Homo sapiens: one gene and its partners. The main gene of each other region encodes a partner of the protein of the gene in region 4 in a complex. Each region holds a gene or a part of one and is shown on either strand. Other genes may lie near its edges. The genes, in order: EPC1, KAT5, RUVBL1 and MBTD1.

Region 1 (7,026 bases), on a different chromosome or scaffold from region 4:
CTCTCCCTAAAGAGATCACACACATTCTAATAGGGAGGCATGCTTAACAAGCAGATTATAAAGTATGTGAAGTGGGTTCTTAGCCACTAAAAAAGATGAAAGTGGTTAGGAACCACTTCTTGGGTGGGGAAAAATCAAAAAAGGATTCTAGATGAGTGATACCAGGCTGGGTGCTAAAAAGAATAAATAGGCATTTGCCTCCTTGGTGGGCAAGCAGAAAAACAGGGATTTTTGTAAAGGCCTGCAGTCATGAAATAGCATACTGCATGAAATCAATGAAATCTGATGTTACTAGATCATAAAGAACTGATAACACTGGAGAGAATAGGAAAAAAGGGCCTTATACCATTCTAAAGATGTGGACTGTAATGTTAGTAGAAGGAATTAAGTAAGGGAAAGATGTGAGACAAATTTTTATATTAAAGCTATTTAATATTTTGCTTATATTCATATCAACCTAGCTTAATTTTGGTAAGTAATTAAACAACATTTGATAGTAGCAGCGGTTCTTGCAGATCTAAGATCCTCCCATTTCCATCAGCATGACAGTGTTCGCGTAGAGAAACAAACTTCCTAGGCAGGAACATACTCACCGAGTGACAGCTGCTGAAAACTCAAAATCTGAAATGCTCCGCAGTTCGAAATTTTTGAGCACCAATGTGATTCCACGTGTGGAAAATTATACACCTGCCCTCATGTGATGATGGGTCACAGTCAAAACTTCACGCACAAAATTATTTAAAATATTACATAAAATCACCATCAGGCTATGCATATAAAGTATATGTGAAAAAAATGAATTTTGTGTTTAGACTTGGGTCCCACCCTCAAGAAATCTCATTATACGTATTCAAATATTCCAAAATCCAAAACACTTCTGGTCCCAAGCATTTTGGGTGAGGGATTCTCAACCTGTACTGTTATTGGTAGTGGCTTCTAACACTTCAACTTTAAAGACCACTCCCTTAGCTTTTGGTAAAGTAGTTGAATAATCTACAAAATAGGACTTAAATATTATAGAAAAAAATCTTAAAGGCCTTCTCCTTTTATATTATAAAAATTGCCTATGTGATGATTTTTGAGCTATAAAAATGGCACTTCACATGGTTCAACCAAATAAGTTTTAATGATCGCTTTATGTTCTTAATAGGCTTCTAGTGTATTTGCTTTTAGGAGTGGTTGGAGGGTGTCGCATCCATTGTCTTTTATTACTTATATGTATATTCATAGTAAAGATAATCTCCTTTCTTTAACTTTAAATGTGTAAGACAAATCTAAGCTTAGATTGTTTGCGACTCTGAAAACAAAATCCAAGAATTCTTTCTTATTTCTTTAGAAAGTCTAGGTCTTGTTTTTATGCAGACATCTGTGGAGTTTTTGTCGGTGAATTCACACAGTAAATGATTGCATATGGTTCCTTCTGTCAGCTTTTAGTTTGGATGCTGAACAGCCTGATTATGATTTGGATTCTGAAGATGAAGTATTTGTGAATAAACTGAAAAAGAAAATGGACATCTGCCCATTGCAATTTGAGGAGATGATTGACCGCCTAGAAAAAGGCAGTGGTCAGCAGGTACAACTTCATTTGTATATAACAAGTATATACATATTCTATGTAAAGAACTGTATTGTATGGAAAGAGTGTGAGATTGCAGGTTGGGGGTAATCAGTCAGGCTTTAGAGTTAAAAAGTATGAATTCAAATCTCATCTCTGCTTATCAGTAACCTGTGTAATCTTGAGCAATATGTTTAAATTTTTCTGTGCCTTGGTTGCCCTGGGATTGTCGTAAAGATGAAATAATGTATATAAAGCACCCTAGTTCAGTGACTGACAGGCATAATGTACTCCTCAAGTTTCCCATTTGTTAATAATGTTGTAATATTGATTATTGTCCTTTAAATTTAGAAGTAAATACTTATGAACCTTGTATGTGTATTGTATGAAAATGACATAATGGTTTTACATTTAGCCAGTCAGTCTGCAGGAAGCCAAACTACTGCTAAAAGAAGATGATGAACTAATTAGAGAAGTTTATGAATATTGGATTAAAAAGAGAAAAAACTGTCGAGGGCCATCTCTTATTCCATCAGTAAAACAAGAGAAGCGAGATGGTTCCAGCACAAATGATCCTTATGTGGCTTTTAGAAGGCGTACTGAAAAAATGCAGACTCGAAAAGTAAGTGAATTTGAAGAATTTTTTTGATAATTATATAATAAAAATTATTTATAGTTATGACTGTCTCAATACTGTGGTTTAATTTATATTCAAATATGACTTTCCAATTATAAGAAAAATACTTAAATTGAACTTAAGATTTATTATGCAGCTATTAATGTTATATTTTAATGTTAATCCATTTAAAAATCAATACAAAATTGATTTCCTGGTGATCTGTGCTCCCTTTTATTGTCTTTAAATTCTAATTTAACCCTTCAAATATATAAATTTTATGGGTCAATAACTATACCACTAGTTAGAAATACTTACTAACATTAAACAAGCAACTTCACATTTGCAGAATCGCAAAAATGATGAAGCCTCTTACGAAAAAATGCTTAAGCTGCGACGAGATCTAAGTCGAGCTGTTACTATTCTAGAGATGATAAAAAGAAGAGAAAAAAGTAAAAGAGAGCTATTGCACTTAACACTGGAAATTATGGAAAAGAGGTAATGTATATTTTAATAATGTTAGAGGAAGTATAGTGCCATTAACATTTTGTATATTGAGTTAATTTATTTCCTATGCAATAATCTAATTACAGAAATATCTTTTTTTAATAATAGAGACTTTAAATATGTGGTATGATACTTTTTATACTTTTACATGTTTTCCTCTATTTTCTTTAAAAGTGACTGGATTCACTTAAGTTAAAACATACCAAGTATTTCCATTTCAAAGTGGTCTTTTTTGGTCCTTGAGTTGCATGTAGGACTTGAGTTAATTGATAGTACTGCTTCTTTTTTAATGCATATAAAATTTAAAACACTGGATTGTTAAATAGAAAAGGGTAAAGAAAGAGGGAGAAAGGCCCATATATCTTACCACTCAAGCATTTGGCAAGGTACACAATGAAAACTTAAAGAAAACTTCTGCCCTATTTCTAGTCCCTATCCCCAAAGAAAACCACTTTTAAATTTCTTGTGATTACTTTTAGAAAAATTAGTTTTAAAGCCCAGGCAATTCTAATTAGCAGAAAGATCCTTAGCACCATTTTAGGCATTACTTTCAACTTCACCAAATCTTTCACCAAAATTGCTACATTAAAATTCCAGCTTTTGATTTTTTCCCAACAATCCTCTATTTATATGCCATGATAAAGCTATAAGCCAAAAAAGTAAAAGGAAGAAACAAAAGGAATTATGTAATCTTTGAGAGAAATTGAATAGTCAAAGTTTAACTACAATCTTGCCTTAAATGTAATTGGTGTTTATAATTATATCTCAGTCAGCTAGTTATTAATGGTTATAAAGATAAATACTTATAAAACTAACTTTCCAAAATTTTCTTCTTTTTCCTGCTTTATTTAGGTATAATTGACAAATAAAAATTATATATTTTATATGTTGGTCAAAGGGTACAGACTTACAGTTATGAAATGAATACATTCTGGAGACCTAATGTACAGCATGGTTAATAACAATGTATTATATACTTGAAATTTGCTAAGAGTAGATCTTAAGTAATCTCACCACATATACACACAAGGTAATTATGTGAGGTGATGGATATGTTAATTAGCTTGATTGTGGTAATTATTTCACAGTATAAATGTATATCAAAACATCACATTGTATTCCTTAAATATATATAATTTTAAACTTTCATTTGTATAATTTTAGGTATAATTTGGGCGACTACAATGGAGAGATCATGTCTGAGGTTATGGCACAGAGACAGCCAATGAAACCTACTTATGCCATCCCCATCATCCCTATTACTAATAGCAGTCAATTTAAACACCAGGAAGCAATGGATGTGAAGGAGTTCAAAGTTAATAAGGTGATTAATGTTTTTGTGATAATAGTATCTAATAATGGGATGGTATTTTATCATTAGAATGAAAGTTAAAAAGAAAAACACACATAGGCCGGGCACAGTGGCTCACGCCTGTAATCCCAGCACTTCGGGACACGGAGGTGGGTAGATCACCTGAGGTCAGGAGTTCGGGACCAGCCTGACCAACATGGTGAAACCCCGTCTCTACTAAAAATACAAAAAAATTAGCCAGGTATGGTGGCATGCGCCTGCAATCCCAGCTACTAGGGAGGCTGAGACAGGAGAATTAATTGAATCCAGGAGGTGGAGGTTGCAGTGAGCCAAGATCACACCATTGCACTCCAGCCTGGGTGACACAGCAAGACTCCATCTAAAAAAAAAAAGATAAAAAAAGAAAAATACATATATACCCCACCTTAATGTATACTGCAATGATTGTGCCACAATATGAAGAAAAGCAGAAGTCTATAATTAAAATTTTATTTTTGTTTCTCTTCCTTATAAAGGGAAGCTTTTGTTACTATATCTGATAAAAGGAAAAATATTCCTTTTACAAGTTGTAGGATTATGAAGTATTGAAATAATTCATACAAAATATGGAGAGTTAGGGAGAAAGACATGAAATCCTCCCTGATCAGATGAGTTTTTCTTTCTTTCTTTTTTTTTTTTTTTTTTTTTTTTTGACAGAGTCTTGCTCTGTCACCCGGGCTGGAGTGCAGTGGCCGGATCTCAGCACACTGCAACCTCCACCTCCCGAGTTTAAGCGATTCTCCTGCCTCGCCTCCCCGAGTAGCTGGGACTACAGGTAGCACGCGCCACCATGCTGGGCTAATTTTTGTATTTTTAGTAGAGGTGGGGTTTTGCCATGTTGGCCAGGCTGGTCTCAAAACCCCTGACCTCAGGTGATCCGCCCGTCTAGGCCTCCCAAAGTGCTGGGATTATAGGCGTGAGCCACTGCACCCAGCCTCAAATGAGTTTTTCTGTCTTTTGTGGACACAATAGTGTATAAGAGGGAATTTTGATATCTTAATAGTAATATAATGATTTAGAAATGGAAATATTTGACAAATTAGTACTTAACTAAGTCACAATTTGTGAAGAATAAAATTTGTGAGAGGAAATAAAATTAGTGAAGGAAAACTGAGGTAAATAAAGGAGAGCCATTAATTAAGTGGCACTTTCTTGGAAAGTGTACATCTGAGGAAAAAGTACGTTATGCATTTTTTGTATGAAATTTTTCATGGCCGGGCACGGTGGTTCATGCCTGTAATCCTAGCTCTCTGGGAAGCCGAGGCAGGCGGATCACAAGGTCAGGAGATCGAGACCATCCTGGCTAACACGGTGAAACCCTGTTTCTACTAAAAATACAAAAAAAATAGCCGGGCGTGCTGGTGGGCGCCTGTAGTCCCAGCTGCTTCAGAGGCTGAGGCAGGAGAATGGCGTGAACCTGGGAGGCAGAGCTTGCAGTGAGCCGAGATCGCGCCACTGCACTCCAGCTTGGGCTACAGTGCGAGACTCCGTCTAAAAAAAAAAAAAAAATTTCATGAAACTTTGCATCTACCATACCAGTTTAATTTGAGGAATGGGAAAATTTGCCATCAGTTTTATCTCCCCTGCATCATTTAATATCATGCTCACTCAGGTTTTTTTTTTATTGTGGTAAACAGACCTTCAAGCCTGAATGTACAACCTGCCACACAGTTAGAATGAATGATGATTTCCCCAGCCTGGACTTTTTTTGCAGGGGGAGGCGGGGAGTTATTTAAAGCAGTGCCAGGGACCAGACCATTTTGTGAAAAAACATGGACTTTTTTTTTTCCCACTTTGTTAACATGGACATTTTGATTTTTAAAAAACGTAGGGGAGGGTGGGAGGGAGAGTAGAGTTATTCTCGTTATTCTCTTCAATGATCTGGAAAGTTAGAGCTGTGCCCCAAAATACTGTTTTAGTTTACTCATGTAAGTTTTTATTTAAATTTTGCATTTATTTAAATTTTATGTCCTGCATTTGTAATATATTAGTTCTAAATGTATCTTTAAAGTTTAATGGGATTGTTCCCACTGTTACTTTTTTTTTTAAGGCAGAGTCTTGCTCTGTCACCCAGGCTGGAGTGCAGTGGCGCAATCTTGGCTCACTGCAACCTCCGCCTCCTGGGTTCAAGCGATTCTCCTGCCTCAGCCTCCCAAATAGCTGGGACTACAGGCGCATGCCACCACGCCTGGCTAATTTTTTGTATTTTTAGTAGAGACAGGGTTTCATCGTGTTAGCCAGGATGGTCTCAATCTCCTGACCTCATGATCCTCCCGCCTTGGCCTCCCAAAGTGCTGGGATTACAGGCATGAGCCACCCCACCCGACCTCCCACTCTTAACTATTTTAATGTGGTCCCCCCCTCTGAGCCCTACATGATTTTGTGGACTACTTTAGTGTTATCCTTCAGTTATCATATTTTAAGATTAATTATCCTATTATTTGCTTTCCTCTATATGTGCCACTCATACTTGAAAGTTACTTTAGGCCGGGTGCAGCAGCTCATGCCTATAATCCCAACACTTTGGGAGGTAGAGGCAGGCAGGTCACTTGAGGTCAAGAGTTTGAAACCAGCCTGGCCAACATGGCGAAACCCCATCTCTACTAAAAATACAAAAAATTAGCGAGCGCAAATTGCTGTAAATGGGTAGTAATAGCACCTAAGCATAGCATAAGGCTTTGAATTAGTAGGTACTTGGGAGGCTGAGGCAGGAGAATCACTTGAACCTGGGAGGCGGAGATTGCAGTGTGCTGATACCGCACCACTGTACTCCAGCCTAAGTGACAGAGCAAGACTCCATCTCAAAAAAAAAAAAAAAAAAAAGAAAAAAGTAATAGATAATAATGTAGTCCTCAAGCACTGCCCTAGCTGACAGCTGATGTTAGCTTTTAAATAATGTTTTGCATTGCCATGGCCAACTTTTGATTTGATTATCCTGTCAAATACAACAGTAGAAATTGTGGAGAGATGCCTTATGGTTTGGGAAAACCGTAGTTT
Region 2 (6,981 bases), on a different chromosome or scaffold from region 4:
TTGAAAATCTTTAAGCACACTATTAGTGGTTAAGAAGACCTATTGATTTTTGGATGCCCATCATGTGCTGAATACCATGCCCGACCCCCAAGTGCATCATCTCTAGGTGTTACCATGATTGTCCCTATGATAAAGCAACCCATGTGTCTCCGTGAATTCTGCAAACTCTGCTGAAAATGGCAAAATGGAGTTGGGGTCCTCTGTGCTGGTGACATTTAGAATGGAAAGCAAGTGCTATTTTGAAGATGACTCAGTCTGAGGAGGCGCTAGTTTTCTCAAGCAAACACTTTTGTAACACCCTTCCAGCCAAAACTCTGAGCTAACGTAGAAGGGTGAGTCCTGTCTTTCTCTTTGCTATCCACTTTGCATGTGGCCCAGCAGGGATGGTGACATTGCTGAGGGTGGACAATCTATACCTGTCCTCTTCTCTCCCAAACTCCAAAAATGTAAGCGCCCTAAGGGCAAGAGGTCTTTATTTATTTTGAGACAGGGTCTGTCTGTCACTCAGGGTGGAGTGCAGTGGTCGGCTCACTGCAGCCTGGAACTCCTAGGCTCAAGCGATCCTCCCTCCTCTGCCTCCTGAGTAGCTGGGAACACAAGCGAGGGCCACCGCCACGCCTGGCTAATTAAAAAAAAAAAATTTTGTAGAGACAGAGTCTCGCTCTGTTGCCGAGGCTGGTCTGTAACTCCTGGGCTCAAGCGATCCTCCCACCTCAGCCTCCCAGTGTTTGGATCACAGCCGTGAGCCACTGGACCAAAAAAAAAAGAAACCTAATATACAAAACAATGGCAGGGTGCGGTGGCCCTAGCACTTTGGGAGGCTGAGGCAGGCGGATTGCAGGCAGGAGTTTGAGGCCAGCCTGAGCAACATCTTTTTCTTTTCTTTCTTTATTTTATTTTATTTATTTTTTGAGATGGAGTCTCTGTCTGTTGCCCAGGCTGGAGTGCACTGGCACAATCTTGGCTCACTGCAACCTCTGCCTCCTGGGTTCAAGCGATTCTCCCGCCTCAGCCTCCTGAATAGCTAGGACTACAGGCAGATGCCACCACGCCCAGCTAATTTTTGTATTTTTAGTAGAGATGTGGTTTCACTATATTGGCCAGGCTGGTCTCGAACTCCTGCCTTGACCTCCCAAAGTGCTGGGATTACAGGAGCGAGCCACTGCGCACGGCCTCTTTTTTTTCCTTCTGAGACACAGTCTTGTTCTGTTGCCCAGGCTGGAGTGCAGTGGCACGATCTTGGCTGACTGAGTAGCTGGGATTACAGGCGGATGCCACCGTGCCCAGCTAACTTTTGTATTTTTAGTAGAGACGGTGTTTTACCATGTTGGCCAGGCTGGTCTTGAACGCCTGACCTCAAGTTGTCCGCCTGCCTCGGTGTCAGAGTTGCATGAACCAGAGCAACTCTATCTTGAATAGAAGCTGGGTAAAATGAGGCCGAGACCTACTAGGCTGCATTCCCAGACGGTTAAGACATTCTAAGTCACAAGATAAGATAGGTCGGTACAAGATACAGGTCATAAAGACCTTGCTGATAAAACAGGTTGCAGTAAGAAAGCCAACTAAAACCCACCAAAACCAAGACGGCCACCAGAGTGACCTCTGGTTGTCCTCACTGCTGCACTCCTACCAGTGCCATGGCAACGGCAGGAAGTTACCGAATATGGTCTAAAAAGGGGAGGCATGAATAATCCGCCCCTTGCTTAGCAGATCATCAAGAAATAACCAGAAAAATGGGCAACCAGCATTGAGTTCCTTTACTTTCCTAACAAACTTGCTTTCACTTTATGGCCTCGCCCTCAATTCTTTTTTTTTTTTTTTGAGACGGAGTCTTGTTCTGTTCCCAGGCTGGAGTGCAGTGGCCTGATCTTGGCTCACTGCAACCTCCGCCTCCTGGGTTCAAGCAATTCTCCAGCCTCAGCCTCCCGAGTAGCTGGGATTACAGGCGCGCACCACCACGCCTGCCTAATTTTTGTATTTTTAGTAGAGATGGGGTTTCATCATGTTGGTCAGGCTGGTCTCGAACTCCTGACCTCAGGTTATCCACCTGCCTGGCCTCCCAAAGTGCTGGACTCGCCCTGAATTCTTTATTGCACGAGATCCAAGAACCCTCTCTTGGGGTCTGGATGGGGACCCCTTTCCTGTAACACTGGGATTATAGGCGTAAGCCACCATGTTCAGCCACCTTTGAGGCAGGAAAATAGGGTCTGGAGGCAGGGAACATATAAGGCTGATTCACACTTCAGTTATGACAGGAAATATCCTCTCCTTAGGGAGTACACCCTAAATGACTTTGTAACTTTACTTCATCCTCTTCATTTACATATGGCATATCCCAAATAACCAATGGAATCCTCCAAAGGGTATTTAAACTCCAACAAATTCTGTAACTGGGCCCTTGAGCACCTATGCTCAGCCGGCCCCAACACTGGAGTGTACTTTCATTTTCAATAAATCGTTCATTCCTTCCTTGCTTTGTGCATTTTGTCCAATTCTTTTTTTTTTTCTTTTTCTTTGAGACAGAGTCTTGCTCTGTCTGGAGTGCAGTGGCGCAATCTCGGCTCACTGCAAGCTCTGCCTCCCGGGTTCACGCCACTCTCCTGCCTCTGCCTCCCGAGTAGCTGGGACTACAGGCGCCTGCCACCACGCCCAGCTAATTTTTTGTATTTATTTTTAGTAGAGACAGGGTTTCACCGTGTTGGCCAGGATGGTCTCAATCTCCTGACCTCGTGATCCGCCCGCCTCGGCCTCCCAAAGTGCTGGGATTATAGGCGTGAGCCACCGCGCCCAGCCGTTTTGTCCCATTATTTTAGATGCCAAGAACCTGTACACCCTCCACCGGTGACACCTTCACAGTTTTGAGGAGTATTCATGGGGTATTTTGTAAAATGTTTCTCAATTGGGATTTGTCTGATGTTTTTCTCATGATTAGACTGGAGGCAGCTGGGATTACAGGTGTGAGCCACCATGCCCAGTCTCCAAACCCTGTTTACACAAAAATTTTAAAAAACTAGCCAGGCTTGGTGGTGCGCGCCTGTAGTCCCAGCTACTAGAGAGCCTGAGGTGGATCACTTGATCCCGGGAGGGGGAGGCTGCAGTGAGCGGAGATTGTGCCTCGCTGGCTGCACTCCAGCCCGGGCGAGAGAGCCAGACCTTGTCTCAAAAAAAAAAAAAAAAAAAAAAAAAGCCTAATATGGCTGAGGGCGGTGGCTCACGCCTGTAATCCCAGTACTTTGTGAGGCCGAGGCGGGCGGATCACGAGGTCAAGAGCTCTAGACCATCCTGGCCAACATGGTGAAACCCCGCCCGTACTAAAAATACAAAAATTAGTTGGGTACTCGGGAGGCTGAGGCAGGAGAATCGCTTGAACCCGGGAGGCGGGGGTTACAGGGAGCTGAGATCGCGCCACTGCACTCCAGCCTGGCGACAGAGCGAGACTCCGTCTCAAAAATAAATATATACAAATTAAAAAAGCCTAATATACAAAATAAAGCTAGGAATCTTCCCTGAGTCCTCTTGCCTACGGAATGAAGTCCACAGACTTGGGGGAGCGTTCGAACCCTTCTAAGGCCACTTCCTTTCTCCAGCCTCTCGCGCCCAGTTGACTCCCGGCAACACCTCCCGCCGCCACAAGGAGACGCCCGAGGACTTCCCTCCGACAAAGCCAAAAACGGTATTGCCACGTGACCCGCTCCGCATACACGTGACCAGCTTCGCACCCGGTGGGCGTCACGTGACGGACTCAGTAGACCGCCACTGGCTGTGCACGTTATGGGGTTTCCACCTAGGGCTCGGCCTGAGGCTTGTAACACTCCGTTTTCCCCCGAGTCACAGGGGCAGTCTTGCCCCTCGCAGCTGGGTCGCGGTGTCTCTCAAAGGTCCCCCTCTACAGGGGCTTCGTGAGGCCCGGGCCCACAGGGCGCTCGGTCCCGGAAGTGACGTCTCCCAGAGGGGCCGGAAGTGGCAGTGGAGGGAGGGAAGATGGCGGAGGTGGTGAGTCCGGTGCCCGGGGCGGGGCGGAGGGAGCCAGGGGAGGTGGGTAGAGCCCGAGGCCCCCCAGTAGCCGACCCTGGCGTCGCGCTGTCTCCCCAGGGGGAGATAATCGAGGGCTGCCGCCTACCCGTGCTGCGGCGGAACCAGGACAACGAAGATGAGTGGCGTGAGTGACGTTGGGGGGCGGGACTAAGGAACCTGAGGGCGAGGGGCGGGAGTCAACTGAAATCCCGGGATGGGGAGGGGCGTCTGGAATTATGGGGCGGGCGAGGCGCAGATACTTTGATGAAGGGGCGTGGCTCTTAGCTGCTCCGAGAGGTACAGGGCGGGGCCTGGAAAGGGGTGGCACTTGTGACTGAAGGAGGCTTAGGAGAGACCTAAGTGCTGGAGCTTAGGGATCCGGCCTGGGGGTGGAGTTCAGGTCGTGGAAGGGTGGAGTCTCATAGCCTGGCCTGTCTAAGGCCCCTGTCTATGCTATTCTCATAGCCCTGGCCGAGATCCTGAGCGTGAAGGACATCAGTGGCCGGAAGCTTTTCTACGTCCATTACATTGACTGTGAGTTCTGGGCCTGAGGTGGGGCATCAGGGTAGGGTTGGGGGACAGTCTTTGGCATTCTGTCCTGAGCCATCCCCACTGCTACAGTCAACAAACGTCTGGATGAATGGGTGACGCATGAGCGGCTGGACCTAAAGAAGATCCAGTTCCCCAAGAAAGAGGCCAAGACCCCCACTAAGAACGGACTTCCTGGGTCCCGTCCTGGCTCTCCAGAGAGAGAGGTGGTGAGTAGGTCCCCCACTTCACCTTTTCTCTCCTGCCTCCTATTTCTCTTGTCTGTTGGCATTAGGAGCTCCTGGATGGGCAGGAGGCGGCTCCCTCTCACCCTGACTTCATCTTGCAAAGGATGGGGGCCAAATTGCACATGTAGCTCCCAGAGTCCAGTAGCTAGTCCTGTGTCCTTCAGAAGGCGAGGGTGGGGTTTGATAATTTTGAGGTGAGGGACCCCTCTTCCCCTTCCCCATCCCACTGCCATCCCCGCCCCAAAGGAAGACCCTGGACCTATCTCTACAGCCGGCCTCGGCGCAGGCCAGCGGGAAGACCTTGCCAATCCCGGTCCAGATCACACTCCGCTTCAACCTGCCCAAGGAGCGGGAGGCCATTCCCGGTGGCGAGCCTGACCAGCCGCTCTCCTCCAGCTCCTGCCTGCAGCCCAACCACCGCTCAACGGTACCCTCAGCAATTCCAGGGACCTTGCTTTCTTCTCAGGTCCCACCTTCTCTACCTTCTGACCCACCTTTGTTGGTTTCTCTCTGCAGAAACGGAAGGTGGAGGTGGTTTCACCAGCAACTCCAGTGCCCAGCGAGACAGCCCCGGCCTCGGTTTTTCCCCAGGTGAGTTCCCCAAACCATCTCTTGTTCTCTTCCTCTCTTCTACTCTCTGGTGGCTTTTTTCAGGCTCATTTCACAGCCATCCCTTCTTTTCCTACTATCTCGGCAGAATGGAGCCGCCCGTAGGGCAGTGGCAGCCCAGCCAGGACGGAAGCGAAAATCGAATTGTTTGGGCACTGATGAGGTGGGTCTGGGGAGCAGCAGAAGGGAACTGGGTGAAAAGGAAGGGATGCAGGCAGGGTGGAGAGTTATTTAGTGATGAGTTTAAAAATAAAGAAGGGGTGGTGGGCAGAGCTAGTGTTGGTGGGATTAGGAGACAGGCAGAACATTGTTCAAATGAGTCATTGGGGCCGGGCACCATGGCTCATACCTGTAATCCCAGCACTTTGGGAGTCCAACCAAGGCTGGTGGATCACCTGAGGTCAGGAGTTTGAGACCAGCCTGGCCAACATGGTGAAACCTTGTTTCTACTAGAAATACAAAAATTAGCCAGGCGTGGTGGCGGGTGCCTGTAATCCAGCTCGGAAAGCTGAGGCAGGAGAACTGCTTGAACCCCGGAGGTGGAGATTGCAGTGAGCCAAGATCGCGCTACTGCCCTCCAGCCTGGGCGACAGACTGAGACTCCATCTAAAAAATGGGGTCATTGGGTGATCTTTTCCACATCATCGATCCTTTAGGGTTTCAGGTTTTTTATCTGGAAATTGGGGATCATGGTACCTCCCCCTTAGGGTTGCTGTTAGGCTTGAAGGAAACCTGTCAAAGGGCTGTGAGCTGTGGTGTCCTGCTGAGCTGTCTCTTACAACCTGGTATTTTCCACTGGCCCTGGGCAGGACTCCCAGGACAGCTCTGATGGAATACCGTCAGCACCACGCATGACTGGCAGCCTGGTGTCTGATCGAAGCCACGACGACATCGTCACCCGGATGAAGAACATTGAGTGCATTGAGCTGGGCCGGCACCGCCTCAAGCCGTGGTACTTCTCCCCGTACCCACAGGAACTCACCACATTGCCTGTCCTCTACCTGTGCGAGTTCTGCCTCAAGTACGGCCGTAGTCTCAAGTGTCTTCAGCGTCATTTGGTATGAGGGGTCCAGGGAGGCTGCCTTCCCAGCACCCTCCACGTTGCCCTTGTTCCTGATCCTCCTCTCTTCCCCAGACCAAGTGTGACCTACGACATCCTCCAGGCAATGAGATTTACCGCAAGGGCACCATCTCCTTCTTTGAGATTGATGGACGTAAGAACAAGGTTAGTGCTTGAGAGGCAGTGAGGCGCTGGGGTGAATCAAATGACAGCTTCTTCTTGCTCAGGTAAACACTGACCAGTCAAGCCAGCAGATCAGTCCAGCCCATTTTTATTGAGTTCCTGCTGTCTGGCAGGTGCTGGTAGCCAGGAATGAGACAGTCTCTGTTCTCTGACAGCTTAGTCCATGGGAGAGACAGTCATACCAATGACCTCTAGCTCCCAGTGTCCTAAGTGTCATGAAACAGAGGGTAGGTTAGCAGGACCCAAAGGAGGTGGTCAGCAGAGCTTCATAGAGGGTTACCTTTCAGCCTTGGTGGATGACAAAGTGGCTGAGGGGATTTCTTGCAGTGGTGTTCTGAA
Region 3 (7,026 bases), on a different chromosome or scaffold from region 4:
GCTTTTAGTGCTGAGGTTGAGGGTGTTTCGGTGATACAGGCTATAACATTACATGGCTGACTCCTTAGAGTTCTCAGGCCATTACCATATAGAACATGTAAATGTATCTGCAGGTTCGTTTCTTGGGTATTATTAGTAGATGATGTGCCTAATGACAACCCCTTCACTCTTAGTGACTTCATTCATTCATCCATTCACTCTACCTGCCTATGTGCTGTGCCCTCAGCTCAGGTGTGGGCAATCTGCAGAGGGGTAGGCAAGGTCTGCAAGTTATGGCATTGCCGTGGGCTGCTGCTGTGCCAGTGGAAACACAGGTCACCATGGGGACAATTTGGAGGATGAGGAAGAAGAATGTGTGAAGGGGGGGGGGATACGTTTTAAACTGAGTCTGCTAGGAGGAGTTGCCTAAGCTAAAAAGAGTGGTTCAGGAAGCAGAACCGTTATATGCAAAAGCATGTAATGAACATAGAGATCACGTTCTAAAAGTTAATTTAACAATGATTCTTGGATAATGAACAAACGTTTATTAAAGAGCTAATGTGGATGATGTTTAGAATTCAGAGAGAAATTTACCTTTATTTGCAATATTCTAATGTAAGGTGCTTTGGAAATTGGTTTTGTTGTTATGGCCTTAGAAAAACTGTAGAGCAGCTGGGAATGGTAGCTCACACCTGTAATCCCAGCACTTTGGGAGGCCAAGGTGGGTGGATCACCTGAGGTCAGGAGTTCAAGACCAGTCTGGCCAACATGGTGAAACCTATCTCTACTAAAAGTACAAAAAAACCCCAAAAATTAGCCAGATGTGGTGGTGCACGCCTGTAATCCCAGCTACTTGGGAGGCTGAGGCAGGAGAATCACTTGAACCTGGGAGGCGGAGCTTGCTGTGAGCCAAGTTCGCACCATTGCATTCCAGCCTGGGTGACAGAATGAGATTCTATCTCAAAAAAAAAAAAAAAAAAAAAAGAAAAAGGGAAAGAAAGAAAGAAAGAAAATTGTAGAGCAACACATTGCAAATAATGCATGACAACTGGGTATTTCTTCTTGGAGTATGCAGTGAGAGCCAGAGGCCCATAACACCTGGCAGTTTTGAGTGTCACCCACTGTTGACATAGATACCTAATTATTTTAGTATGTTCTGCTCAGGTTTCATAGTGTCAGAGGGTGTGTAATGAGTTATTCCACTGGTTTTAAGATTTCCTTTGAGAGTCAGAAATTCAGGAAACAAGGCTACAGGAGTTTTGATAGCCACTGTTCTGGTGGAATAGAATAGTGTGGGTTCAGAGACTGGATTAAAGGCTAAAGGTAAATTTCACCCCCTTGGAAATGAAGCAGACAATTTTAAGAATTATAACTTGTCTATCTAGTTCTGGATTTGAACCTAGAAAGTTCCCTTAAAAAGTTGCATTTCTAGGCCGGGTGTGGTGGCTCACACCTATAACCCAGCACTTTGGGAGGCCGAGGAGGGTAGATCATGAGGTCAGGAGATCAAGACCATCCTGGCTAACATGGTGAAACCCTGTCCCTACCAAAAATACAAAAAAATTAGCCGGGCGTGGTGGCGGGCGCCTGTAGTCCCAGCTACTCGGGAGGCTGGAGGCTGAGGCAGGAGAATGGAGTGAACCGGGGAGGCAGAGGTTGCAGTGAGTCGAGATCGTGCCACTGCACTCCAGCCTGGGCAACAGAGCGAGACTCTATCTCAAAAAAAAAAAAAAAAAAAGTTGCATTTCTAATAGTGCCTCTAATTTACATTGATATGTTTGTATTGCCTTTTTACCCATCATGACACCCTGGAATGTACATTATTAAGGTTGATTTGGCAGTTCTGGTGACATGGAAGTTTTGGGCTCTCAGTGTGAGAGAAAAGATTCTGCTTCTCACCATGGCCCCTCTGCCACCTCTTCCAGGGCTGCGAATAAAGGAGACCAAGGAAGTTTATGAAGGTGAAGTCACAGAGCTAACTCCGTGTGAGACAGAGAATCCCATGGGAGGATATGGCAAAACCATTAGCCATGTGATCATAGGACTCAAAACAGCCAAAGGAACCAAACAGTTGAAAGTGAGTACATGTATGTGGCCTCTTTTCCCTTGACTCTCCCAGCACTGTGTGGCTTTGGGCAGGTGGTGTAACCTCTCTGCATCCCAGTTTCCTGACCTGTGCACTGCAGGTATTGATTTCTCACAGAATTGGTTGAGGATATTGTGTGTATAAAGCGGTACCTAGCATAGGGCTTGCACATAGGAGGACTCAAGGAAGATAGCTCTTTTCTTACTTACTCCTAGGAAACTCTGCATGTTAAAATGTGAGCTGTGTGGTTAAGTCAAGAAACTGCCTCTGCCATCCCATGTCCCATATTATGACCATGCATCAAATACCCTGGGCTGGGTCTGAACCTGGGCATTAATTTTTCCAGTTATCAGTGCCCATGCTCATAGAAAGAAACAGCATTGAGTAATCAAATAAGAGTTGTATAAAGATGATGGATGGGCTTCCCAGGGGCCACATGCAGAATCCTGACTGCAGTTGCTTGTGTCAGGAACCTGTGGTCGCTTCAGTGGCTGGTTCTGTTTAGTACAGGGCTTTGTGGAGAGGCCAGAATGGTGACACTGGATAGCGCTCAAAGACAGTCCTCAGCCACCTGTCCTGTAAGTCTTTAGGATGGAGGCAGTAGAGTTTCTAGGGGAAGAGCATGAGTTTTGGAGTCTAAGTCCTTAAGGAATCCCTGGCTTTGTTACTTACAACTGTGTGGCATTAATCTCTGAGTAGTAGTTTCTTTATTTGTTGAATGGGAATAATAATTGCCTGTCTTTCAGGGTTATGGCTTTGGGTGTGGCACCTAGTTACCTAATGAATGATAGCTGTTAATGTTATCGTGAGAGCCTTCACTTGGAGAAATGGAGCAGTCTGGATTTTAGGCTTTGCCTTATTATTATTAATAAATATTATCATTATAGCTCTCATTTATTGTATGTGTCAGGCCTTGGACTAAGTGCTTCAACAAACATTTATTGTCATTCATAACTTTATATGTGTATATGTTTGCGTGTGTGTATGTGTGTATAGTTTTCCTCATGTTAACAGATGAAGGCTCATAAAGAGGTTACATGGTTATCCTGGGATCATCCAGCCAGTCATGTGGCAGAGCTGACCCTCTGAGTCCTAACCGTTGTACTGTCTGCCCACCAGCTTGCTGTGTGACCTTTGGAAGTCAGTTGAGCTCTCTGGGACTCAGTTTTCTCATCTATAAACTGCAGGAGATTGACCATATAATTTCTCCATTTTTATTCTGTTCTACGATTTTATGGTTCTTTGATTCTCTGAGGTTGTTTCTTGGTCACTGCTTTATGGAGATCATAAAAATGTCACTTCTTCAAAGGGCCATTTTTCTTTTTCCTAACAGGGTTTCCATCTCAGGAACTTGCCTCTGCAAATATCTCTTTTATACCTACCCCTCGTCACTTCCATTCTGAATTAATTAGATTTCTCAGTAGCATCTGCCACCTTTCCAGTAATTACATCTTCAGTCAATTCATTTGGGAAATTAACCGATATAAAAATGCTTGAGGCAAAAAAGAAGTATATTCTCCAATGTAGGACAGATAAAATAAGGCGTACAGTTTAAATTTCAGCTATTTGTAACACTGCTTTGTACAGTTTCTTTACAAAAATAATGTAGAGGAGAAGATGAAATTTTTCTTCCAAAATGAATACTTTTAGGTATTTTTAGAATATGTACAAGATATTTGGATAGAAGGTGCTCAAATACTTGGTGGATATTCAAGTCTGAAGGAGTCTTCTGAGTTCTAGCAACGAGAATGCCATTAGTACTCATGACCCCTTCCTGCCAGGCCTTACCTGGGGGCCTCACCCACTTTTGTCCTTAGGCGCACAGACTCACAGCAGTTCTGCCAGGGTCTGCCGTCCCCACCCAGCTAAGGAGAGGCAGAACCCTGGGTTTGCTGCTGTGGTGGTAGTTTTTTAAAAGCTTTATTCAGATAGCATTTTAAATAAAACTCACCCATTTTAAGTATACAATTCCAGGAATTTTAATTTATTTTCACAGTTGTACAATCACCACAATCTTAATTTCAGAACATTTTCATCGCCCCAAAAAGAATCCTCCTACTCATTTACAGTCATTCCCCATTCCAACTATAGCCCTCGGCAACTACTAATCTACTTTCGGTTGCCTTCTTTTGGACATTTCATATAAATGGAACATACAGTGTATGTCTTTTTTTGTATCTGGCTTCTTTCACCAAGTCCTGGGTTTTCACTTTTTAATTTTGTTTGGGCAAAGCCCAAGTTTTTTTTCCACCATAGCTACATTGTATAACATAGATCTCCATGAAGACCTCGAGAAACTTGTGTTTAACTATAGAATCCTTACAAAGGCAGCTGTCCTAGAATATTAATCACTGAGGGTCACCAGAATCTGGAGAAAAGCAACAGTTCCGCAAATCTGCTTATTTCCTTTCCTGGAGATATAAGCAGGCAGACCCAAGGGCACAAACACTGGGATGTGAGTCAAAAGGCTTGGGAAAGATTCTCATTTATGTTTTTCTTTGAATTACTGTATACATCTGTGATTGCACCTGGGTGCTGTTGTATAGATGAGGAAACTTAGAACTGAGAACCTTATCCAAAATCAAAGGCCCTGCAAGATGCCAGCTTTGAGATTGGTAAGCAGGTGCTGGCAGGTACTTCAGTTGTGGAAAGTTCCACCCCACCTGAGGTGAGGCAAATGAAGGAGTGAAGTAGGGATGATGATTTCAAGAGGGGTGATAGGGCCTGTGGTCCTGTGGACAGTGGGGGCTGGGCCCACCCGTCTCACGGCAGCCAGGACCATCCTTATAAAAGCGCTGCTGCCAGTTTACAGCCTTTGGAATCAAGGGAAAGAGGAGAGTACGTGTCCCCTGTGTCCCTCTCATGCTCGTTACATAGGGATGCAGGTATGCTGGCCCCCCTATTTTCTCCCTGGTGTGCTTAGTCCCCCAGCCAGTCTGTTGTGTGGTACTTATGCATTCACACTCCTGCAGGTCCCAGTATTCATGCAAACGCAAAACAGGCTTTCTCCATGCACCTGCTAGCTACCTCAGATCCCTTACGGAAAGGTACCTTACATGGTGTCAGAAGGAAATGGAATATGTATTACACTTCTGATTTACATTTTTTTTTTTAGCTGGACCCCAGCATTTTTGAAAGTTTGCAGAAAGAGCGAGTAGAAGCTGGAGATGTGATTTACATTGAAGCCAACAGTGGGGCCGTGAAGGTAATGCCTTCCTTGGGACACAGCATTGTCCCTGATTTGTTTGCCATGAGAAGACCTAAGTGACAAGGGAGTTGCTTTCTTCAGAGGGTGTGGGGTGTGTGGGGAGGGGCTGGTGTCTGTTATGAGGCTGATGGAAGGTCAACTAGTGGCCCTTTATGTATAATAAAGTTTGCCTTCCCTTTATCTTCATTCTTTAACCTTCTCGCGATTAAAACAGATAGTCTGTTAGAAAAAATACTAAAACCTGTTCAGAGGGGGAGGACAGGGTGAGAAACCAAAACAACTTTAGTCACTTTCAAATTGAAATGTGCAGTGTATTTAATCTTCCTTTTATCTCTTTGGTATTTTCTTCCCAAGATATATGCATGTGGGAAGGAACGCTGCATTCGTTGGCATTCTTTTCTATCTGATTTTCAGGGTCCTGTACAGTGTTCCTCACTGTTTAATGGATGGGCATAATACTTCATATCATACAATAAATCATCCACCTACAAAAGAGTCTGAGCAGCTCCTCTGCCTCCAGTTAATCTACTGGATTTGGCCTTTATCAGGAATTGCATACAGTTAAAAGAAAGAAGGGAAAAAGGATTTTGGGAGAAAGTATCAGGTGTTTTTCAACCCAGTTTTTGGAGCCCAGCGATGAGCAGATAGCTCCCTTCTCTTGGCAGCAGGGGAGTGGGGCATATTTGGAGTTTGTCAAGTAGGCTGTCAGGCCTGCAGTGGGAACTGAGACCTTTATCTCACTTAGCCCTGTGCCATTTGGGGACTTGGCAGTGAAAACTTACCAGGCACTCATGTTTCTCTCTTTTTGCAGAGGCAGGGCAGGTGTGATACCTATGCCACAGAATTCGACCTTGAAGCTGAAGAGTATGTCCCCTTGCCAAAAGGGGATGTGCACAAAAAGAAAGAAATCATCCAAGATGTGACCTTGCATGACTTGGATGTGGCTAATGCGCGGCCCCAGGTACTGCCTCGATGCCTGGGTGATCTGGCACATTAGCCCTTTTGTATGTGTGTGGAGATCTGGGAATGAATTGTCAGAGTCTTGCTGCCTTTCTTGAGGTAGACGGTCCTTTTCTATCTGTAATGTTCAGCAATTAACATCGACATGAGCTACGAGGGACTCCTTTGTTCCCATTCAAATGCTCTAGTCACAGATGATTTCATGTGTATTGTTTCTTATCCCAGCCAAGCCTCTGGCCCTGAGCTAGCCAGCTTCCTCCATGGCTTCACTCCAGCAGTGGGCTCACACCTGGGATTTTCTGGGTGTTAATGGCAGGAGGGCAGGAGTGTTCTATGAGCCCTTTACAGGATTTCAGAAAGCCTAACAAAGCTCTTTCTTTCCCCCTGCTTAGCAAAAGCCACAGTGTTTTAGCTTTGAGCTGGTACTGTTGTCTGCTTCTCATACAGATGGATACTTATGCCTTGGCTAGTAAAGTGCAGGAAAGGATGTTATCACTATATGACATTTCTAGGAAATAGTGAATAGTCACTATTAGGGAATAGTTTGTTTTCTGACTTGAAATTTGATCCGTGGGTGTTTTGTTCCTTGGAGCTTTGGTCAAGAGATTACTGAAGACTCATCTTGGACCAACAGGTCCCCTTGGTTGGTGAAATGGCCATCCCCAAACTGACCTCCTGGGAGCCCTTGACCTGAGAAGAGTGCTGGGCTGGGAGTCAGAAGTCAGGAACTGTGTTGCTCCATCACTGACCAGCTTGGTTAATTTGTCACTTTGGGTCTCTGGGTTTTCTGTGG
Region 4 (7,026 bases):
CTAATGTTCAAATTGGCTAGTTCATGTAACTCCTAGATATCTTTGCTCATCTTTGAGCTTTGAGGCTATTTTGGTTTTTCCTGATTTGTTCATACTATCAAGTCTTTTATAACCTCACATAATCCTTTTCTTTATGATCAACATTCTAAATTGAATGAGGAACTGACTGTCCAGAGCAACACAAACTGTTTAGTGTTATCAGCATTTATATTCTTAAATTTGCTTATTTGATTTAATTTACCATTGCATAAGTTCCAAGTAATTGTGAATTGCCTTGAGTTTTAAAGATTAAAATATAATGGAAACAATACTTTGGGAACATCTGTTAGATTTCAGAAAATCCCTTCATGATGCTCATTTAATTGATTTTCCGAGTCCCCATCTTAACCATTTGCTGTGGGAGGCTAGTGATTACCGGTTCTAACATTGGAAGTTTTCTCTTTATAGTAATTTCTACATGAGAAATTTTGAAATAATAATTTAAATAGTTTACCATGGTACTCATCTCCAAAACTCTTCAACTCCACCTTCTTAATAACTTTATCCAGTGCTTTTCCCTCACGTCCATCTATGTGGACTAGATTTCTAATCTATGAATTTAATTTAAATTGAAAATTTTCATTTCTCTTATTCATGTTGTTGGAAACCACACTGCTGATTGGAATTGTTTTTCTTTCTGCTCTTAGGCCAGATCTTTTAAAAGTAGAAATTAGGGTGAAGTGTATTCACTCAGTACATATTAAAAATTTCTTAAATCAGTTTAATCCTATTAAATCTGCTATTGAGTTTGTAATTCCACTCATAGAAAAATCGCTGCTTAAATCTCATATTAGGACAGTATCAGATTTTGAAGTCAGCATGAATCTAGTCTAATATATGTGAATTTTCTCTTTATCTTGTTTGTCCCTGAAACTGGCTTTTTCCAGATAGAATTCTAGGAAACAAACGGAATTAAAATGACATTTTTAGTTTAATATTCCTATTATTGATGGTACTGCTTAATTTTCATTGATATGTTTTAGGCTTTATGTTAATAAGACAATAATTTAATGATTTTTATGTGACAGGCACCTATGGGGACCTGCTGGGGTGATATCTCAGAAAATGTGAGAGTAGAAGTTCCCAATACAGACTGCAGCCTACCTACCAAAGTCTTCTGGATTGCTGGAATTGTAAAATTAGCAGGTGAAAAGCATGAATAATAGTTTAGTAGAAAATGCAGAGATCCTTGTAACCTTTCGTAAAAAAAGCATGTTTATAAATTTTGCAAGTATTGCCAAATAAAAAATATGTTATGATATAGGGCAGGGGTTGGCAAATTGTTTTCTGTGAAAAGCCAAACAAATATTTTCAACTTTGCAGGCCATATGATCTCTGTCACAGCTATCCGTCTCTATCATTATAGCATGAAAGCACCCTTAGCAATACATAAACAAATGGACATGATTGTGTTCCAGTAGAACTTTATTTACAGGAAATTTGAATTTCATATAATAGTTATGTATCATGAAATATCCTTTTTTTCTTTTCAACCATTAAAAATGTAAAAGTAATTCTTAGATCACAGCCATAAAAATAATCCAGCAATAGACCAGATATATAGGCCATAATGTATATGTTACTTTGAAAAGTAACAAAAGTTGAGGTACTAAAAAAAGTGGTAAGAGCTGGCCACAGTGACTCATGCCTGTAATCCCAGCTTTTAGGGAGGCAGAGGCGGGAGGTTAGCTTGAGCCTAGGAGTTCAAGACCCACCTGGGCAAAATAGCGAGACCCATTCTCCATTTTAAAAAAATAAAAATAAAGTGGTAAGAACCTTAATACCAAATTGATACAAGTGTTGATAATTTTATATATCTTGGGTTCTTCCGTTCTGTTTATTCCCACTGCCTCCACCATACCAAGCCCTTTACTGCTCATGAAGTAAACATGTTAGGAATCTACTATGGTAGACAATGTGGACAAAAGATGATATCCAGAAGTATAAGACTTGTATTTTTTCCAGCATGTTCACATCGGCCAAATGTTGACTACTACCAGGTATTAATATGACAAGATACTCAGTGAGTAGTGTAGTAGGGCATTGTGGAGGAGAGGCAGGCAGCCACTCATAAGAAAAGTTATCTTCAATTACTACTGTGACAGATTTTTAACTCCTCCCACTCTCTCTAGTTTTATTTCCGGCATTCTCCTCAAAACACACTGTAGACTGCTCTGTTGTGTACTGCTAATTGACTTAATTTACCTAAAAATTATTTTAATTTTATTTTTCTGTTCAAGCATCTTTTATGGCCTCTTTGTACTTAAAGGATCAAGATAGCCAGCATTTATGACTATTGATGAGTTGCACCATATACCACATGCCAGATGTATTGTAGTTCTCCAGCATAAATGATCTGTTGTGATGAGGCCAGTCTCCCTCTCCCTTTCATACAGCACGTTTTTGTCACCTCTGTGCCTTGGGTTACTCTTGCAAGAGTGTCCCATCTCTGTACTGAACTGTACTACTACCCAAGTCAATTCCCCATCTTTTTCTTGAAACATTTTCCCAGCTGTATAAGCATTCACTAAATGCTTGTATTATTCTCTACACTGTAATTTAAAACAACAGCATATTATTTTTGCCCTGGGTGTTTAAGTTAGTTACATTTAAATAGCTCTTAAGATCAGTGCATTTACTATCCAAAAATTACTTCTGCCTTCCATCTCCGATTTTACATTTCTGTTTTATCTAACTGCATCATGTATCTTCTTTTAAGCCACTTTAATGCCATTGTAGAAGTGAGCCTAATGTTAACCAGAAGCTAGAGTTCAGCAGTAATTAGCAAACTCATAAATTGTTCTGAGAAATTATTGAATTTTAAAACTGAACATTTAAGGCTATAAATTTTCACAAACATGAAAATGCTGACTAAACTTGTCTCCTAACCTGAAATACACATATATTGGCCTTTTTCTGTTTCATTAAAGGCCTTAAATTAAATCGTAATCTTTTATCAACATAAAGTTTATAGAATTATAAATAGGATATATTACATATTTTTTGTACTTTCCAAGAGTAAGCCTTCCTATTTGCCTAAGACATAGTTTTTAACTCATTTTACATAATTTTCTTTGTGTTTATTGAACTTTTTACCTGGCATATTCAAATCTTATTTCCAAATACATACGACAGAAAAATTTAGATTCTTAAAGTAGCCACATTCAAATTACCCAGGAGTAATTGGCCACCTAAGCAGCTGGATAAAGCAATTTCTTTGAAATACATTTCAAGGCCAAGCACAGTGGCTCATGCCTGTAATCCCAGCCCTTTGGGAGGCCAAGGCGGGCAGATCACCTGAGGTTGAGAGTTCGAGACTAGCCTGGCCAACATGGTGAAACCCCATCTCTACAAAATACAAAAATTAGCTGGGCATGGTGGCGCACGCCTGTAATCCCAGCTACTCAAGAGGCTGAGGCAGGTGAATCACTTGAACCCAGGAGGCAGAGGTTGCAGTGAGCCAAGATCACACCACTGCACTCCAGCCTGGGCGATAGAGCAAGACCCTGTCTTCATAAAATATATATATATATATAATTATATATAATATAAATAAATATATAATATGTATTTTTATATGTTTATATGCTTATACATAAATATGTATGTTATATGTATAATTACATATATATGCCTATAATCCCAGCTACTTAGGAGGCTGAGGTAGGAGAATCGCTTGAACCCAGGAGGCCAAGGTTGTAGTAAGGCAAGATTGCACCACTGCACTCCAGCCTAGGCAACAGAGCAAGACTCCATCTCAAAAAAGAAAAGAAAAAGAAATTATGGGTACAATTGAAATACATGTAAGGATGCCATGCTCTGAAAACAGTTGAACTGTTTGCACTGAACAGATGGTTCTCAAAGTTTGGTTCATAGACCAGCAGCAACAGCATCACCTGAGGACTTGTTAAAAAGGCATATTCTCAGTTCCCACCCAAGATCTACAAAATCAGAATCTCTGGAGTGAGACCCAGCCATCTGTCTGTTAACAAACCCTGCAGGTGATTGTATTGCAGATAGACACTAGTTTGACAACTGCTATCAGATGCTGTATTGTTTTATTTAATTTTATTTTCTTATTATGTAGTGATTTATTTCTGGGTTTCAGGTTACAATGCCCTTTTAAGATATGAAGGATTTGAAAATGACTCTGGTCTGGACTTCTGGTGCAATATATGTGGTTCTGATATCCATCCAGTTGGTTGGTGTGCAGCCAGCGGAAAACCTCTTGTTCCTCCTAGAAGTAAGTAGTTTATTTACCCTTACCGTAATTTTTTTATATGTGTACTTTAATGCTATTTTACACATAGTAATGTTAGAGTAATATGGAAATTAAAGGCCGGGCATGGCCGCTCACACCTGTAATCCCAGCACTTTGGGAGGCCAAGGCAGTCGGATCACTTGAGGTCAGGAGTTTGAGACCAGCCTGACCAACATGGCAAAACCCCATCTCAACTTCTCCCTAGCTGGGCATGGTGGTGCATGCCTGTACTCAGGAGGCTGAGGCAGAAGAATCGCTTGAACCGGGGAGATGGAGGTTGCAGTGAGCCAAGATCACGCCACTGCACTCCAGCCTGGGCAACAGAGCGAGACTCCATCTCAAAAAAAAAGAAAGAAATTAAAATAGTTTTTTTGGTGTTAAGCAGCTTTTTGCTGGCAAGGCATATACTTGCTTTCTCTATATTTGTTACTTTTCAGAATGTTAATAGCCTGACTTTGCAAGGAAATTTGTTACTTTTTTAACAAATAATTTATGAAGCAGTTCTTTTTTGCTAAAGTATAACTGATTATTTCTTCTATTTTAGCTATTCAGCATAAATATACAAACTGGAAAGCTTTTCTAGTGAAACGACTTACTGGTGCCAAAACACTGCCTCCTGATTTCTCCCAAAAGGTAAAAAACAGGATCTTATAAAGACTGAAGAGCTCTAAAAAACAAGGGTAACAGAGAACATTTTTAAGGAATTGGTTTAATTTTGTGAACCAGATGATCTGTGTTACATTTCAAGTGCATTCAGTATTTTTTACAGTATAATACAAAAATTTCTTGTAGACCTTTGTCATGAATTTCGAGCAGTTTTTTTTGTATGCTTTTAAGGTTTCAGAGAGTATGCAGTATCCTTTCAAACCTTGCATGAGAGTAGAAGTGGTTGACAAGAGGCATTTGTGTCGAACACGAGTAGCAGTGGTGGAAAGTGTAATTGGAGGAAGATTAAGACTAGTGTATGAAGAAAGCGAAGATAGAACAGATGACTTCTGGTGCCATATGCACAGCCCATTAATACATCATATTGGTTGGTCTCGAAGCATAGGTCATCGATTCAAAAGATCTGGTAAGCACCTATCACAAGAACTCCTGTCAAAAGCATCATTGAGGCTGATTATACTAGTTGGTTATTTTTCTCTGCAGAATTGCATAGATGAAAAATAGCATTCTAGTTGTTTGGGCTGCTTCTTCTACCTTAATTAGTGAAGGTTCACACCATATTAGTGTCCTAATAAATTTTTTTATATTCCTTCCACTTGTTCTCCAAAAGAAGGAACTTCTTCTGGTCACAACTATAATTGTTTCTTTCTTTTATTATTCAGCCCATTTGAAAGATCTAAAGATACCTTTCCCTTTCCATTCAATTTTAATCAAAATAGCAAGATTAAATGTGGTTAGACTTAATACTAAGCACATGAAAACATGCTTCTAAAGTTGTAATTTTCTAACTAGGGAATTACATTAAAATTATGAGCATTAAAATTGGCTGAATGTATTTAAAAGCATATATGCACATGTACTCTGAAGAGAGAAAAGACTATTAAAGAATATTCACCCCAAATGTAGAAGGCATGTCTTCTTGCCATGTTTTATAGTATGACATACTTTGTGAGTTTGAAGCCTTCAAAGAACGTGGTTTTTGGTCTTCTCACAAATGCTGACAGATTAGTGTGTAACTTTTCCTTGTAGATATTACAAAGAAACAGGATGGACATTTTGATACACCACCACATTTATTTGCTAAGGTAAGAAGTTTTTATAAGAACCCTCATTTGTAAATTAGGTTTGAAAGAGGGTTGTGGGTTTTTTCCTAAAATTACGGAAATCACAATTACATATGTTCACTTAAAAGAATTAAGACCTTGTAAATTCATAGGTGTCACAACTCTTTATTATAATTATTCTTAAATTCTATTTGTCTGAATTCTCTCTAAACCTTAATGGAAGTTTGAGTTATAATATTAGGTAGGTAGGAGAAGGCACCTGGTAAATCTTTTCACATTGGTAATATTTTAATTATCAAAATAACAACATTTGTAACAGTAGATGTGCTTTCATATAATTCTTTAGGTAAAAGAAGTAGACCAGAGTGGGGAATGGTTCAAGGAAGGAATGAAATTGGAAGCTATAGACCCATTAAATCTTTCTACAATATGTGTCGCAACCATTAGAAAGGTAAGATAATAGGTTTTAAAATATAGAAATGCAATTATAGGATTTGGGTATAAGCTAATAGAAGGAGTCCCCAAGCATATTCGTTTTGACATAAAATGTGTATGTGTATATCTTCACTGGGGAGAAGGTTGCTAGGAATTTCAAAATAAATTTGAATCCTCTGATCTTACATAGTTTATTGTCAAGATTGTCATTTTGAGTCTGCTACACTTATTTATGGAAGTATATCCTAATTTAGAGGAAAAATATTTATTTAAGTTACTTCTAGACAAGGCTAGTCCAATTCAGAATTGTAACAAGGCCAAGTTTATCTTCAGTTTCCTGTGTTTCCTCTTTAGGCCTTTTTCTTCCTTTTGGTAGTAGTTTTTGCTGCTTTTCTCTTTTCCCCCTCATCTGAAACTGCTCTTACAAAAAGACCTAGAAGAGAAATTCTTGGGTTTTTTGTTTGTTTGTTCATTTTTTTTTGAGACAGTCTCTCTCTGTCGCCTAGGTTGGAGTGCAGTAGTGTGATCACAGGCTCAAGTGACCCTCCCACTTCAGCCTTC

Evidence for each region.
Region 1: MBTD1 (region 4) and EPC1 share a complex: the UniProt entries of both Homo sapiens proteins name them as parts of the nuA4 histone acetyltransferase complex.
Region 2: MBTD1 (region 4) and KAT5 share a complex: the UniProt entries of both Homo sapiens proteins name them as parts of the nuA4 histone acetyltransferase complex.
Region 3: MBTD1 (region 4) and RUVBL1 share a complex: the UniProt entries of both Homo sapiens proteins name them as parts of the nuA4 histone acetyltransferase complex.

The regions. Positions count from the first base shown.
Region 1 is NC_000010.11:32,288,139-32,295,164, reverse strand, and holds part of EPC1 (enhancer of polycomb homolog 1), read left to right. Parts: intron 1-1,427; coding exon 1,428-1,573; intron 1,574-1,970; coding exon 1,971-2,177; intron 2,178-2,520; coding exon 2,521-2,669; intron 2,670-3,530; exon of another isoform or gene 3,531-3,708; intron 3,709-3,842; coding exon 3,843-4,002; intron 4,003-7,026. UniProt on the Homo sapiens protein: Component of the NuA4 histone acetyltransferase (HAT) complex, a multiprotein complex involved in transcriptional activation of select genes principally by acetylation of nucleosomal histones H4 and H2A.
Region 2 is NC_000011.10:65,708,287-65,715,267, forward strand, and holds the start of KAT5 (histone acetyltransferase KAT5), read left to right. Parts: upstream 1-3,965; 5' UTR 3,966-3,981; coding exon 3,982-4,159; intron 4,160-4,479; coding exon 4,480-4,548; intron 4,549-4,635; coding exon 4,636-4,772; intron 4,773-5,034; coding exon of another isoform or gene 5,035-5,061; coding exon 5,062-5,217; intron 5,218-5,306; coding exon 5,307-5,381; intron 5,382-5,487; coding exon 5,488-5,562; intron 5,563-6,208; coding exon 6,209-6,457; intron 6,458-6,534; coding exon 6,535-6,624; intron 6,625-6,981. UniProt on the Homo sapiens protein: Catalytic subunit of the NuA4 histone acetyltransferase complex, a multiprotein complex involved in transcriptional activation of select genes principally by acetylation of nucleosomal histones H2A and H4.
Region 3 is NC_000003.12:128,099,803-128,106,828, reverse strand, and holds part of RUVBL1 (ruvB-like 1), read left to right. Parts: intron 1-1,904; coding exon 1,905-2,056; intron 2,057-5,180; coding exon 5,181-5,270; intron 5,271-6,084; coding exon 6,085-6,234; intron 6,235-7,026. UniProt on the Homo sapiens protein: Possesses single-stranded DNA-stimulated ATPase and ATP-dependent DNA helicase (3' to 5') activity; hexamerization is thought to be critical for ATP hydrolysis and adjacent subunits in the ring-like structure contribute to the ATPase activity.
Region 4 is NC_000017.11:51,201,047-51,208,072, reverse strand, and holds part of MBTD1 (MBT domain-containing protein 1), read left to right. Parts: intron 1-1,067; coding exon 1,068-1,185; intron 1,186-4,147; coding exon 4,148-4,282; intron 4,283-4,844; coding exon 4,845-4,933; intron 4,934-5,137; coding exon 5,138-5,372; intron 5,373-5,995; coding exon 5,996-6,051; intron 6,052-6,376; coding exon 6,377-6,481; intron 6,482-7,026. UniProt on the Homo sapiens protein: Chromatin reader component of the NuA4 histone acetyltransferase complex, a multiprotein complex involved in transcriptional activation of select genes principally by acetylation of nucleosomal histones H4 and H2A.